Linked DNA regions of Homo sapiens: region 1 is linked to region 2. Evidence: fine-mapped expression QTL. Tissue or cell type: whole blood. Region 2 holds a variant in brackets; the other region holds the start of a gene. All regions are shown on one strand. Distances are from middle to middle.

What was found. PIP is the estimated chance that this variant, and not a neighbour inherited with it, causes the effect.
Region 1: it holds the start of SLC2A6, and the variant in region 2 is fine-mapped to the expression of SLC2A6 in whole blood (INTERVAL, PIP above 0.99).

What each region holds. Positions count from the first base shown.
Region 1 is chr9:133,475,915-133,483,914 of GRCh38, forward strand. It overlaps SLC2A6 (solute carrier family 2 member 6), which reads right to left and starts at 3,185. Exons shown (of 10, transcript NM_017585.4): 1 at 3,054-3,185; 2 at 2,340-2,502; 3 at 1,121-1,327; 4 at 323-422. The coding sequence starts at 3,145. RefSeq lists enhancers at 2,715-2,774, 3,195-3,696 and a silencer at 2,935-3,584.
Region 2 is chr9:132,669,767-132,677,972 of GRCh38, forward strand. DDX31 (DEAD-box helicase 31) reads right to left here and starts at 217. Exons shown (of 20, transcript NM_022779.9): 1 at 94-217. The coding sequence starts at 168. It overlaps GTF3C4 (general transcription factor IIIC subunit 4), which reads left to right and starts at 698. Exons shown (of 5, transcript NM_012204.4): 1 at 698-1,189. The coding sequence starts at 833. RefSeq lists enhancers at 74-941, 627-706, 3,801-3,850 and silencers at 287-436, 857-986. The variant T/TGACC (reference allele first, on the strand shown) is at 3,747.

The sequences.
Region 1 (8,000 bases), 810 kb after region 2:
CTGTGATTTCTTTTCTATCTGGACTTCCCATCTGAGATGGCATTTGATGGAAGCTTTCTGCCGTTAAAAGATAGTCTGGCGACTGTGGGTCCAGGAGAAGCCCTGGCTGCCCCAGCTAGAGACTGGGCCTGTGGCTAGAGGGGCAGGCCCTGCCTGGAGGTGCCCAGCAAGGTGCTGACTGAGTGGGGCCGGGATGCCAGATCTCTTGCCTCTCAGCCCAGGATCTGTTCTGGGACAAATCATTCCCTTTCCACCCACGTCTACCTTGGCGGCACCCACCCCTCCCACCAGCCTGCACACAGGAGTGCGGGGCCATACTTGCCAAGGGCGTAGAGGGACAGGGATCCGAACACTGCCATGAGCTGGGGTGTGGCCCCCAGAGCCCCACGAACGCCTGGGGGAGCAATCTCAGACACGTACACCTGCAAGACACAGCCGCCGCACCAGGTTTTGCTGAAAATACTGGTTCCTAGGCCCGGCCGAGATGGGAGAGTCAGCCCCTGTGAACCCCGGAAAGTGGGAAGTGGAGGCTTTCTGGTGGGGCTGAGTCCTGGTCATGACTCACTGCAAGACCTTGGGCGGCCTGCCTGATCTCTCTCTGTCCTCAGTTTCCCTAACTGTGACGTGGGTGGAAGTACGCAGCTCGGAAATGGGCAGCATGACGCTGGGAAGGAGGCCCGAGGGCTCCCAGGCTTCAGGGCTGAGCAGGTGAGTCCATGCCTCCCAGTGAGTTTTGTCTCCTCTGCTGGGCTCACCACCAGGCCCCGTGTGGAGTACCACATAAGATAAGAAGGTCCCGGGGAGGGTGTAGGGCAGGGACTTCCCTCTCCTACCCATTGCTCAATGCGGATTTTCTCCAATTGAGTAATACATCTGACCGGTCAAGAAACGGGGTAGAAGGCTTGGAAAGTCCAGAGTGGGGGCAGCTGGGGACCTGGAGACAATTTCCCCCAAATTAGCTGCCCTGCTGGGGGTGAGCTGAGGCGCCCTGGGCATCCGCAGGGAAGGCAAACAATTCTCATTGCCCAGAAGGCATGGAGGCTGGGAGGCCTTAGTCAGATGGAGGCTCAGCACCAATACAGAGGCATTGGGGCGCCTGGGTGGGAAGGCCTGGCCTTACCGGGATGCAGGCAGCTGTGAGCCCCCCGGCGAAGCCCGTCAGCGTCCTTCCGAGCAGCAGCATCCAGAGGCCGTGCGCACCCGCCATGAGCGCATAGCCGGCCGCCGACGGCACAGCTGAGAACATGATGCTCAGCTTCCGGCCCAGGAGGTCGTTGAGGATCATGGCACTCAGGCCTCCGGCCGCTGCTCCCAGGGTGAACACGGACTGCAGGGGAAGGGGGTGCAGGGCAGATATGTCTGGGCACTTGGCACCCCAATCTCATCAGAGTCCAGGGACAGCTTCTTCCCTAGGCCGACCCCAGGAGCTGGTCAAGCACTTGGCCAAGTCAAGCACTTGAAACAGGGAGCCTCCTGTCTTCAAGGAACAGCCATTTGTTAGGGATGCCCAAACGGGGAATTCTGCTCTAAGGAAGAGGTGCTGCGCCACATATCCACAGTGGTTCTGTCCAGCCTGATGTTTAAATGTCTAATATTTTAATACAGGAGAATTCTGTGACTTGAAGGTACTGGGCTTTAAGATTTGGAGGTTCTTAAGTTCCCTGTACAGCAGCAACTGGGACCCCCTCTGGACTCTGCTAACTGGTAGTGGGACCTGGGCACATTGCCCAGCCTGTCTGCACCTCAGTTTCTTCAGCTGTCTTATGGGGAGAGCGCAAGTTCTACCTCGTGGCGTTGGCCCTGAGAATCAATGAACGTTCAGTGCCCAACACATGCCTGGCACATAGGAAGTGCTCAGTAAACCTTGGGAATTTTTATCTTAACTACTATGTTAACAACTCTACATATGAGGCTATTAAGATTATAATTTTAGACTCTGGGACTCTGGGATCTTCCTCTCCATCAGCCCACAATCTGTCCTGCGGACTCTCCTTGCCCCAGCCAGTGCCTCTCCCCACTGACACCTGATACCCTTGCCCCCATCCAGCCAACTGTGGGTGTGGGGACCCGGGGAAGCCTCAGCCCCACCTAGTATAGACCCTGACAGCCACCTCCCCACCTGCTCCTTCCCTCACCCTCTCCACTGGCTTTCAGTTCCTCATTTCAGAGGAATCCTGTAGCTTTACCCCACCCACTAGTGGCCTGGATGGCTGGGGGAGGGGGGACCAGGGCCCTGGAGGGACCCCCAAGGTGGAGAATTTGGGAGGTTCCTAGCTGGAGATAAGGCTCAGCAGGTCCCTCCTTCCTGCACCCACCCTCCTCCAGAGGATGGTCCTTACCCCAAACCAGGATGCCTGGGATTTGGTCAGATGCAGGTCAGGATCCAAGGAGCGCTCCAGGGCTGGGATGACAGGGGATGTGTAGACCAGGGCATACCCAAAGCTGAAATTGCCGAGCACTGCGGCGAAGGTGGCCAGGAACACCCTTTTGTTCTGCAGGGTCCTGGTGATGGTGGCGGACAAAAAGACCAGGGTCTCTGAGTCCCTCCTCCAGGGACCATTGCCTTTTCTGAACCCAGTGGCTGCCCGGCTCAGCGGGCAGTGCTAGGGAGGCCTGGGTCCAAGGCCATTCACGTTCCCAGGGCCTGAGCCCCAGCTCCCCTGGGAAATTCCCAGGCCATTGTTAGCTCATCCGCAGTGGCTGAGCCTCTGGTGCTGGGGCCTTTTCTCCGGAAGAGGAGGCTCTGGTTCTGCCCCCAGGGCGGCGGCTGGAGGCTTGCTGTGTGACCTCAGGCAGAACCCCTGCTCGCTGGGGCCTCAGTCTCACTGTCTGTGGCAGTGGGGGGCTGGGCCCGGTACTCTCGTGGATCGTTCCTTCCCTTAGGGGGACCAGTTCCTTAAATAGGAGTAGCGTGTCTGGGACAGGAGGGAGCCAGATGGCCCCTCGGTGGCGACTAGGTCAGGGGAGGCCCAGGGCGGGAGCCTGCCGCCGGCTGGAGGGAACCAGGGCCACCCCCAGGCCCCACCCGCAGCCCCCAACCTAGCGACTCTCACCCGACCCGCGCCCTGTCCCCTGGCGACGGGGGCGGCTTCTCGGGGAAGGTGTCGTAGTCCGGGCCCTCGGCTCCCAGCAGCGGCTCCTGCATGGCCGGGTCTCTCTCGGGGCGAGCGGAGGGCGCTCAGACTGGAGCAGCCGCCCGGGGCCAGCAGCTCCGAGGGCACCGGCCAGGCTCCGCCCCTTGGCCGCTATTGGCTGTGGGACGGCCCTGCAGAGACACGCCGGCCAATGGGGCGGCCGCAGGCTGTCCTGATGCTCGGATGCGGACCCGGCTTCCCCGGGCGCGGCCGGCACCGCGTGCGCCCCCGAAGGTCACGCCCCAAGACAGGATGGGGGTCCCAGGGCGGAGCCCCTGCTGGATCGTCCGGGGCCCCCGCGGAGCGCCGGAAGCGGCTCACCCGGCCCGGCTCTTGCAGGCGTGACTGCGGCAATGCGCGCAGCCCCTGTCGTACTCGCTCCCGCGGGGTGGAAACCGAGGCCCAGAGAGGCGAAGCCGAGCGCCAGGGTCACAGCGAATGCGCACCTCGCTCCTCCTTACGCTCTAGCCCTCCCCGTCGCGTGGCGTCTCAGGGCCACCTCTGCCCTGGCTCTCCCTGGCACCAGGGAATCGGGGTGTGTCAGGGCAGCAGCGGATGTGCGGGACGAAGGAGGCAGGAGGGGCCGGCGAGGCGCTGTGGGCAGCTCCAGTGGGCGAGGTCTGTATCCTCCACCCCAGGCTCTGGTGGTAGAAATAACCTGAGCTCGTGACACGTAACCCAGGTAGTAAGATAACATTGAAAAATAAGAAAAGCAGAAATGGAAAATTCCCGGGAAGACCGTCCTCAAAAAATCCCACAGCAGTTCCACCTCTCCCTTTGGGCCTTTTCGGGAAGAGGACGGAATCACGCCCTGCTCTGTTGGATGGACGTGCCACACACGCTTTTAAACGGAGCCTTTGTTGCTGAGTATTTGGGTCATTTCCCATTTTAGCTATTAACATGGTAAAGCATTTTTAAAAGTTAGAATTCCCTTTTATTATGATTGAAATACAACCATAATAGAACAATAAAATCACATCCATCTCCCGTCAGCCTGACCTTGATGGCGTTTTAGCCTCTTCCAGTCTTTTCCTCATGTGCCTATTTTGCATATTTGCTATTGGGGCCCCCATTAAACTGTGCAGCCCCTTTACGTCACCGTTTTCTTGCCATCAAGATCATAGGCTTTGGACTCAGGCACACCCTGGTATGGTGATCAGGCTGCACAGTCCTCGTGGCCATATATATACGTATATACATATATATGTGTATGTATTTTTACATATCTATATGTGTATTTTTTTTTTTTTTTTTGAGACGGAGTCTCGCTCTGTTGGCCAGGCTGGAGTGCAGTGGCACGATCTCAGCTTACTGCAACTTCCACCTCCCGAGTTCAAGCGATTCTCCTGCCTCAGCCTCCCAAGTAGCTGGGATTACAGGCATGTGCCACCACGCCCGGCTAATTTTTGTATTTTTAGTGGAGACGGGGTTTCACCATGTTGGCCAGCTTGGTCTTGAACTCCTGACCTTGTGATCCTTCCGCTTCAGCCTCACAAAGTGCTGGGATTACAGGCGTGAGTCACCGCACCCGGCCTTCTCTTTTTTTAAAATGTATTTTTTTTCTTTTAAAATCAACTTTAGGCCAGGTGCAGTGGTGTGTGCCTGTAATCCCAGCATTTAGGAGGCCAAGGTAGGAGAATTGCTTGATGCCAGGAGTCTGACACCAGCCTGGGCAACAAAGTGACCCTGTCTCTACAAAAAGCTAAAAAAGTTGTCCAGGTGTGATGGCAAGTGCCTGTGGCCCCAGCTACTCGGAAGGCAGAGGTGGGAAGATTGCTTGAGCCCAGGAGTTTGAGGCTGCGGTGAGCTGTGATCACACCACAGCACTCCAGCCTGGGTGACAGAGGGAGAGCCTTCTTGAAAAAATAAAATACAAGAAAAATCAACTTTGTTAAGCTATAATTTATATACAGTAAAATGAATCCATTTTAAATATAGGTTGATGAGTTTTGACAATTGTATAACCCCAAACACCCCCAATCAAGATATAAAACATTTCCACCTTTTCTTTCTTTCTTTTATCTTTTTTTGAGACAGAGTCTCTCTCTGTTGCCCAGGCTGGAGTGCAGTAGTGCGATCTCGGCTCACTGCAACCTCCGACCACTGGGTTCAAGCGATTCTCCTGCCTCAGCCTCCCGAGTAGCTGGGATTACAGGCGCCCGCCACCACACCTGGGTAGTTTTTGCATTTTTGGTAGAGATGGGGTTTCACCATGTTGGCCAGGCTGGTCTCAAACTCCCAACATCAGGTGATCCTCCCGCCTTGGCCTCCCAAAGTGCTGGGATTACAGGCGTGAGTCATCACGCCCAGCCCATTTCCACCCTTCTAGAAGGTTTCTTTGTGCCTTTCTGAGGTCAACCTCCTTTCCCTGCTCCCCAGTAAACTATTTTTTTTTTTGAGAGGGAGTTTCACTCTGTCCCCCAGGCTGGAGTGCAGTGGTGCGATCTCGGCTCACTGCAAGCTCCGCCTCCCAGGTTCATGCCATTCTCCTGCCTCAGCCTCCTGAGTAGCTGGGACCACAGGTGCCCGCCACCATGCCCGGCTAATATTTTTTTGTATTTTTAGTAGAGATGGGGTTTCACCATGTTAGCCAGGATGGTCTTGATCTCCTGACCTCGTGATCTGCCGGCCTCGGCCTCCCAAAGGGCTGGGATTACAGGCATGAGCCACCGCGCCCGGCCTCCCCAGTAAACTATTAATCTGCTTCCTGTGACGATAGATTACAGTGGTCTTATAAAGAGAACCTATGTGAAGCACTGTTTTTTTGTCTGCCTTCTTTTTTCAGCATGTTTATGAAATTTATCAGTGGTTTGCTGATGTTCAGTGGTTTGTTCTTATTTGCAGCCGCGTAGTGTAGTGTTTTACGGATGTAGCACAGTTTTTGGCTAAAAGAATGAGCCGGTGTGAGCCTTCTTGCACAGAACCCTGCTTAACAGCCTTTTTTTTTTTTTTTTGAGATGAGTCTCGCCCTTTCCCCCAGGCTGGAGTGCAGTGGTGCCATCTCAGCTTACTGCAAGCTCCACCTCCTGGGTTCACGCCATTCTCCTGCCTCAGCCTCCTGAGTAGCTGGGACTACAGGCGCCTGCCACCACGCCCAGCTAATTTTTTGTATTTTTAGTAGAGACGGGGTTTCACCGTGTTAGCCAGGGTGGTCTCCATCTCCTGACCTCGTGATCCGCCCGCCTCGGCCTCCCAAAGTGCTGGGATTACAGGCATGAGCCACTGCACCCGGCCCTGTTTCACAGCCTTTTAATGTTAAAGGCTGGGTGGATGAGCTTGAATTTGTAATGAATCTTCTGTCATGGGCATCAAAGCTGTTTCAAACTGTAAGGGTAGAAAAGGTGGAATCCGTTTCCTCACCCATTGTTACAAGACCAGCAGATCCACATGCCTGCTCCACCGTGACACCACGACACACCAGTACACCGTGCAGCAGGGTTCGCAGCAGGGAAGAGTTTAATGATTGCAGGGCTCTGAGCAAGGAGATGGGAGGAGATCCTCAAATCCATCTCCCCTAGGAGCTTTGGGCTGGGGCTTTTAAGGGGATCATGGAGGGCGATGGGCTTTAGAAGTGGGTTGTTGATAGGTCTGGGGATGGGAGGTAAAATCATCAGGAGGTGGAAAATGTATTCTTTGGTGAATCAGGTCCTCCTGGGGTCCTTGAGACCAGCTGTCATCAGTAGTTTCTTTCTTTTTTTTTTTTTGAGACAGAGTCTCACTCTGTCACCCAGGCTGGAGTGCAGTGGTATGGTCTCCACTCACTGCAACCTTCACCTTCTGGGTTCAAGCGATTCTCCCACCTCAGCCTCCAGAGTAGCTGGGAGTACAGATGCATGTCACCACACCTGGCTGATTTTTGTATTTTTAGTAGAGATGGGTTTTCACTATGTTGGCCAGGCTGGTCTCGAACTTCTGACCTCGTGATCTGCATGCCTCAGCCTCCCAAAGTGCTGGGATTACAGGCGTGAGCCACCGCGCCCGGCCGGTGTCAGTAGTTTCATTGGTACACAGGACCCAAAAGAACATCTCAAATGGAAACTTTTGACTGGGCGCCTGGCCAACATGGTGAAACCCTGCCTCTACTAAAAATACAAAGAATTAGCCAGGCATGGTGGCGTGAGCCTGTAATCCCAGCTGCTTGGGAGGCTGAGGCGAGAGAATCACATGAATCTAGGAGTGGAGGTTGCAGTGAGCCGAGATCGTGCGGTTGCACTTCAGCCTGGGCAATCAGAGCAAAACTCTGTCTCAAAAAAAAAAAAGGAAAAGGACATCTTTGCAATGTTAAAGTTGTTATCTATATCTACAGGGCAGTGAGGGAGAGCTACAATCTTGTAACAGAGTCTCTGTGATTCTAAGGCAACAGGCACCAAAAAACTTTGAGGTCAGAGAGCAAGTTGACCTAGCGATGGATGCTGAATGTGCTACAAGCCTGGTTTATTCTCATTTCTCCTCCTCTCTTCTTCCTTGATTAATTTTATAAAGTTTATAGGGATGGTCTCATCATCATCAGGGCCATGGGTGACAGTTCTATAACAAAAGACAGGTTCACAAGAGAAAAGCACACCAGATTTATTTAATCAAAGCTTTATGTGACAGGGAGGTGTCAGAAGTGGAGACTCAGAGACCCAGGGAAGATGGTCCCTGTGCTTAGAGTTGGTGGAGAACAGGCAGCCGTGTGGACAGGTGTCGGACGGCAGGGGATGCCTGTGGGGATGGACTGCGAGGCTGGCGAGGCCAGCTGTGCAGATCCCCCTTGGCCTCTCTGTGCAGTGCTTCTCCCCCCAGGGATGGGGTAGAACCCCCGGAGGGAGGGTCTTTTACGACCCACAGTCAGACAAGGTGGGCATGGCCAGCTCTTCCCCAGAA
Region 2 (8,206 bases):
TCGAAACCCGACTCCAAGGCACGGCTGCAGCTCGCGGCGCGCCCACAGCCGGGCCGCGGGTGGGGACGGAGCTGAAGCCGGGTCAGAACTCACCCGACTCGCCTGGGCTGGGGGACGTCTGGAGAACGTCCTGGGGTTGTCGAAGAGCGAACCGTCGGCGGCTGCCATGGTCTGCGTGGGTGACGCGTGGTGCAGCAGCGAGCCCGGTGCGCAGACTGCTGGGCCCGGGACCCCACGTGGGACGCGCGAGGACCCTGCGCCACCGCCCCTTCCGGGTCCGGAACGGCTCCAGCTGTACGGACTCGTCCCGAGGGGAGCCGGGGACGGCGGCACCGGGCGGGTAGGGACAAGACTACCGCGCGTGCCCCCGCCTGGTGGCAGCCCCTCTCTGCGTCCCTCGCGGCCTGGCAAAATTACATTCGGCCGAGAGTTCACGCTGGGGAAGCTCTCTGAATGCCTCTGAGAAGCGAGATCCGGCGCCATCTCACCGACGAGCCTCCCCTTTACCGCCCCGTGCGTTTCCTCAGCACTTTAGGAACTAAAGCCTGTCTGGGTAGCTCCCTAACAGGCTCTGGAGCTCAATCCCTGGGCAGGGAAAAGGGGGTCCTCGGGGCTCCCCGCTCGCTGTCCTTTTTCTGGACAGGCAGTTCCTTGGCCACCTGGTAGGGCCGCGTTGCCTGGCAACGGCGGGGTCCTTCTTGGCTCGGCGGCGCTCGGGGCCTGAGGGGAGAAAACCGCCGCGGAGGGCGCTGGGGGTGGCGGCGGCGGTCCGGGAGGTGGTCGCGCGACTGCGTGGAGCGCCAGGGCGTCCGACCTCTGCACCTGAGAGAAGATGAACACGGCCGACCAGGCCCGGGTGGGGCCCGCGGACGACGGGCCTGCGCCGTCTGGGGAGGAGGAGGGAGAGGGGGGCGGCGAGGCGGGCGGGAAGGAGCCAGCAGCGGACGCGGCCCCGGGGCCCAGCGCTGCATTCCGCCTCATGGTGACTCGGCGGGAGCCGGCCGTGAAGCTGCAGTATGCGGTGAGCGGCCTGGAACCGCTGGCTTGGTCCGAGGACCACCGCGTGTCTGTGTCCACGGCCCGCAGCATCGCTGTGCTGGAGCTCATCTGCGACGTGCACAACCCGGGCCAGGACCTGGTTATCCACCGCACCTCGGTGCCCGCACCGCTCAACAGCTGTCTCCTCAAAGTAAGTCATCCCCCGCCATCCCTGGGGTCTTCCCCTGTCCCCCTCTCGCGGCCGCATCATCCGTCCCAGGGGAATCCGATCCCACACTCTGTCCGGGGATTTCCCTCTTCGCACCGAGCGCTGGGGATTTATTAAGCAGCCAGGGTTACCACAGCTTAAAAAAAAAAAAAGAAAAGCTCTGCAGCTGTCTGCACCCTGTTTCCCCAGGTCACCCGCCGCCGCAAACACAGGTACACACCCAGGGGGCTTCCCGGAGTTGAGTCCCAGGAACCCCTCCTTCGCCCCTCCGTCGGGCCCGCACATGGAGCGGGTTACTCGATGGTGCTTTCTGAGACTCCACCCCCTGTAGATCCAACCCGGGGCCTGCCTCTGTCGTTGCTGCTATTGTTTGGGGCCGACTTTCCGAGGTTCTTGGCTGGCTTTGTCTACTGTGTGTGTCCTCCTCTCGCGCCTCTTTAGCTTCAGAAAAGAAAAACTGGTCCCATCCATTGTCTTAATTGTTTCAGTGACTTTATTATGAATGGTCCTCGCCTCTCCTTGGGCAAACGGGTAAATACTGGATCTCGGGGTTTGTACTTTAGTTTTTCTTTACTAGCTAAACATCTTTGGGATGTTGAATGAAAATAAAGATTCGAAACAACTACCTATCTTAAACTTCAAGCGCAAGGTCAAGTAGTAAGCCATAGCGTTCCTTTTAGTTGCTTAGAGGTGTAAAAACTTTCCATATATCCTTGATAGAGGTGTACGCTTACATGTGAACTGTCAGTGTATATTCATACATTCAATAGATATTTGAATACCATTCTGCTTGGTGCTGCCCCATGTTCTGGAAATAAAGCAGTGTACAAAACAGAACCCCTGCCCTCATGAAGCTTACATTCTTTGGCAAGTCAAGCACAAATGATAAGGTCCTGTCAGGTAGTGATAAGCACTGTAAAGATGTGTATCCGCACATAGAGAACATGTTTATGTGTTCGTAAACTCTTATTTTGGAAAACCATTGAAAATATGAGTCATTAGCTATAGGTAGGGTGCAGATAACCCTCATCACTTTGTAGCATACTTAATTCAAGTTTCAAACATCTTTCTGTTGTTAGATTGTTAGTCAGCTTGTATGACTAAGCTTCCTCTAAGATCTTCTTGAAGAAGATATGAACACATTTGTTCAAGTGTAAACAAATCAGATAGACAGATGCAACCCTATGAAATTGAGAAATACAAAAGGAGGGAGGCAGAAGAAAGGTGATTTAAAAGGTGTATCTTCTGCTGTAAAGGAATTTAACTGTTTCCAAGGATGTTCATCCGCACAGCAACTCAAGGAAAGTATGTATGTCAGTATAGTAGACATCGAATACCTTAGCAGAGAGAATGTAAAGAAAGGAGGGAGTAGTAAGGGGAGAGACTTATGGGGCAGGTCATCTGGTGGTGAATCTGCAGCAGTCCTAAAGAAGGTAGTGTTTGGTTTGTAAGAGGAAGGAAGGAAAGGGCATTCCAGGCGGCAGGAATGAGGCATTCATCCCATGTGCATACACGTTTAAGTCATGAACATAATTAATTATTGTTTGTATAATGACGGATCAGTACATGAGCTCAAGTAGGTCTTCTAGAGAGTCCGAGAAAGTAAGATGAGACCAGTTTGTGGACTTGGAAGGTCGGTATGAGGAAGTTGGCTTCAATCTAGGAAGTCTTTAAGATGCTGTTACAGTTTCATTAGCATAGAGTGACCTGCTGTGGTTCAGGAACATTACTGGATAGAGGCAAGAAGATGATTGTTGTGATCAGTGTAAAATAAAAGTGAAGAGACTGGGCTTTGGCACAAGATAGGCCTATCTATAAAAGGGGGATAATGAAGCGTTGTTTAGGTTTTTTGGAAGATTAAACACACATAATCACTTGGCCCAGTTCTTGGCACGCTGTAAATGCTCAAGGTGAAAATATAATGAGTTGGGCCGGGCGCGGTGGCTCACGCCTGTAATCCCAGCACTTTGGGAGGCCGAGGCGAGCGGATCACGAGGTCAGGAGATCGAGACCATCCTGGCTAACACAGTGAAACCCCGTTTCTACTAAAAATACAAAAAATTAGCCGGGCGTGGTGGCGGGCGCCTGTAGTCCTAGCTACTGGGAGGCTGAGGCAGGAGAATGGCGTGAATCCGGGAGGCGGAGCTTGCTATGAGCCAAGATTGCGCCACTGTACTCCAGCCTGGGCGACAGAGCCAGACTCCGTCTCAAAAAAAAAGAAAGAAAATATAATGCAGTTATACAGGTATGAAGGAGTAGGAGTCTGGATTAATGTCGTGGTTGTGGACATGAGTATTCTGATAAAATTTTGACTGTCATTTTGCCTCAGTTAACATTTACCACAACTGCTAACTAGTAACAGGAAATCCTTATATAGCTCTCTTATAGTTGACAAATGGCTTCTATGAAATTAATTAGTAACATCTTCCCCTTCTGTACTGTTGTTTTTTTTTTAATATGCACATCACATAAACCATCAGTCATTTAGCAGTCTTTTTAGACTGATTGAAGTGAATGAATGCTGAGTTGACCCTGCAGT[T/TGACC]CTACAAGAGCCCTCTGTGGGTTAAAACTGGTGTGACGGTAGGAATGTAAAGAAGTCTGTGTCAGCACTTTGATGACTCCACCCATTGGCAGTCTGTGGATTTAAATCTGCTCGGTGCCGTGCAGCATGCCTTCGCGCTAACCTAAATGGTGGACAGTCTGCAGCGCAGATGACAGTTTTAGTGTAGCACTGTTAGAAAGCTAGGTACTAAACACCTTTGAAGCTTTTGCTCTATAATTCTGTTATTTAGATTATGAATTTGCAGGAAAATCTGCAGTTATGTAATAGTTCAGACATTAATTATCAGCTGTTTTATAAGATTGTATGATATAAAGGTGGACAGTATAAATCTGAAAAGCAATGAAATAGTGATTTAAGAATGTCAGAATTGTTTTTCCCATTGGACTACTGATTTAGTGACTCATCTAGTGAGACATTTGTGTATAGTTCCAAATTCTGATAATATTTGTGTACCGAATTGTATTGTGCATCAATTGTTAGGAGCCTTAGAAAGTATTAACTTCATCTGCTACATTAAGTTAAATAACTGTTGCCTGTCTTTGGACTCTATTACCTGTCCTCAAGAAGCTTACTGTCTAAAAGCTTCAAGTGAATTTTTGTCAGGTGCTTACAAAATGCCTAACAGTTAGTATTAAAAGTATTTGCCATTAAAAGTGATGGTGAAAACCGCAATTACTTTTGCACCAACCTAATAGTGGTCAACTGGAAACTGGATGGTGTACAATTAAATGATTGGCTGCGGGCAGGCCTCTGGGAGCTGGACTTTTTAAGTATACTCCTTGGGCATCTGAATACTTGATTTGTTAACAGTTTTGTGATAGGGAGAGTTGGAGGGAGGTTCAGTAGTCTAGTTGAAACATATGTCAGAAATTGCTACACAAAACCCTAAGACTTTTTCCTACCAGTCAAGATCTGTACTGCTCTCCATCCTGTCAAGAATTCTTCCCACAATGAGTAGGACCAAGGGTTGCTTAAGCTTCCTTTATTTCATCCCGTGCTGCTGCTTTGGGTTACCAATCCTGTGAGTTTACTTCTACAGTAGCTTTTATTTGTAGCAAATTTAACCTATTCTAAGGAGTATTGCTTAGTTCACAGTATTAAAGGATTTGATGAACAATTTTATATCTACCTTTCATTTGGTACACAACTTTATGTCTACCTTGCATTTTTGCATACTTTTATTAGCATTAAATATCTTATTAACATTTACTTAAGGCTGAGTGCTGTGGCTCACACCTGTAATCCCAACACTTTGGAAGGCCAAGGCCGGAGGATCGCTTGAGCCCAGGAGTTAAAGACCAGCCTGGGCAACAGAGAGAGACCGCATCTCTACAAAAAATTTTAAAAATTAGCCAGGCATGGTGGTGTGCACCTGTGGTCCTAGCTACTCAGGAGGCTGAGGTGAAAGGATCACTTGACCCCGGGAGGTTGAGGCGGCAGTGAGCTGTAGTCACGCCAGCTGCACTGCAGCCAGGGTGACAGAGAGGAATCTCAAAAGTTTTTTTTTTAACTTAGTCCTCAGAGTATATTAACAATTATCATAGGTAACTTTATTGAGCGCTTAATATATGCTTTGATATATTGACTTATTTAACCTTCCTAACTTTCTGGGACATGTATTAGTCTCATTTATAAATGAGGAAATTAAGGTCAGAAGGTTTAAGCAATTTGCGCACACAGAGCTGGTATGTAGCAGAGCCAGCATTTGAACCCAGGTAGTCTGGCGTCATAGCACAGATTTTCAGTTATTATGTTGTGCTTCATTATGTCATCTCACAAATTTCATCTGCCTGTAGAAAGCACCGGGCTTTGATTAGCATTGTTTTATTTCCAAGCCAGCCACCTACACCTCATTTAATTGGCATTTTCAGTCTATGATTCTCCAGCAAGTTTCATAGTGTATCCAAGAGACTACTTTAAAATGCCTTCCTAAAATCAAGATACACTGCCTAAAACACCATTCCCAAAGTATTCCACATACTTTTGGATAATAAAGGGTAATAACTGCCTCCCTCACCTCCAAAAAAAAGGCTCTGTTGTTTAAAAAGGCAAAAAAGTTTGGCTTCCTGTGGCTCAGTAGGTCTTTATAGTAGTTCCCTGGCCGAGGCATTTAGTGTCCTCGTGTCACTTTTCAAGGGAGAACGACATATAAATATAGTATTTCCAAAGCTTGTTTGGCCATAGAACTATTTTTCAAGGGACAATTAAAGGGAGTAGTGTACTGTGAAACACACTGTAGGAAAAGTTAGTTCTCTATTTTGTGGACAATTTTCTATTTACATTTCATTTTATTTGCTTATCTATTATGTCATCTAGCAATTTTAGCAGAAAAGAGAATAAGAATAGACTATTCCAGTTACCCTTTTTTTTTTTTTTTTTTTTTGAGATGGAGTTTTGCTCTGTTGCCCAGGCTGGAGTGCAGTGGTGCCATCTTGGCTCACTGCAGGCTCCACCTCCCGGGTTCATGCCATTCTCCTTCCTCAGCCTCCTGAGTCGCTGGGACTACAGGCACCCACCACCATGCCCGGCTAATTTTTTTGTATTTTTAGTAGAGACGGAGTTTCACCGTGTTAGCCAGGATGGTCTCGATCTCCTGACCTCATGATCCGCCCACCTCAGCCTCCCAAAGTGCTGGGATTACAGGCGTGAGCCACCACGCCCAGCCATCCTTTGCTTGTTTCTAATCATCACTCCTGTCTGCACAAACTATTCATTTGTTAATACATTGAGGAATTTTCTGTTAGGCTTAATGGTCTGTAGTTTTTGTTATTTATGTACCATTTGGGGGATTTTTTTTTTTTTTTTTGCAAAGCCTGGCTCCATCACCCAGGCTGGAGTGCAGTGGCGCAATCTCGGCTCACTTCAACCTCTGCCTCCCAGATTCAAGCAGTTCTCCTGCCTCAGCCTCCCAAGTAGCTGGGGTTATGGGTGCCCACCACCACGCCTGGCTAATTTTTTGCTATTTTTAGTAGAGATGGGGCCTCACTATGTTGCCCAGGCTGGTCTCAAACTCCTGGTCTCCAGTGATCCACCTACCTCGGCCTCCCAAAGTGCTGGGAGTACAGGTGTGAGCCACCATGCCCAGCCATGGGGGATATTTTTTAACTCTTTGTTGCACTCTGATTTTCTGATACATCCCCAGTTGTCCAGACTTCATCTAGGATGTAGTAAGTGGTTCTGAGTTAATGTCTTCCAAGTGCTTTCTGTGTCCTGGAGGGTAATTCCTCTAGGCTTGAACATTTAAACTCATTCAAGTGACTTTTATTATATCCATGTGTGTCTTAGGCTGGAATTTCCTTTTAATCATGTTCTACCCTTTCCAGTTTAAAGAGCAGCCTCTTTGAAAAAGGAAATTGACACTAAAAAATAATTGAAGCATTCTTTTTCTTTTACCCATTTCTCTAAAGACAGTGGATAAAGTCCTTCCTTCTTCCTGCTTTCAACATAACAAAACATCTTTTGGCTAGTCTCTGCTCTTTTTGGCTTTAGCTTTCCTATTTTTTTATGGTTCTGAACCACTTTCTTTTGGTCATTTATCTCTTCCTCCATCTTTGATGTCCCTTTAAAATCTTATTAAAGAGCTCACAGCTGGGCACGGTGGCTCACACCTGTAATCCCAGCACTTTGGGAGGCCGAGGCAGGTGGATCACTTGAGGTCAGGAGTTCAAGACCAGCCTGACCAACATGGTGAAACCCTGTCTCTACTAAAAATACAAAAATTAGCTGGGTGTGGTGGTGCACGCTTGTAATCCCAGCCACTTGGGAGGCTAAGGCAGGATAATCACTTGAACCCTGGAGGTGGGGTTTGCGGTGAGCCGAGATTGTGCCACTGCACTCCAGCCCGGGCGACAGAATGAGACTCTGTCTTACTGTCCCATACATGTTACGAACTTGGAGGAGGGAGAGATGAATGAAAGCTTGAATGACCTCAAAAGGCCTTATAGGGAGAATTAGATCTGGTAGGATAGATGGGATTTACATAGGGAGAAGAACTAGGCAAGGGAGCCGGGGAAAGCTGAGGTGGGAATGTTCAGGAATGGCAACTAGAATAGTCTGATTAGAGTGAACATTATTCTATAGAAACAGTAAACAAAGCAGTTGGAGTTGGCTCTCGCCATTATTTGTCAATGAAATTTCAGATAAAGGACCTAAAGCTGGCATTTGTATTGCAAAGATGTTGTAAAAATCTAAATATCAATTTGTATCAAAGATATATATAGATACATATTTTCATAAATTTGTTAACACCTTTTTTGTTTTGTGACTAGTTCAGGTAAATGCTCTGTTGAATCTTAAGAATCAAGTACATCTCTCTTGCATATATTAATTCTAAGAAGAATATGGGAACCAGGCTATGAATAATGACATTCTGACTTATTTTAAAAAATTGCCATCTCCTTGAGTAAATGCTCATCTGATAGTTTTTATATCTCTTATTT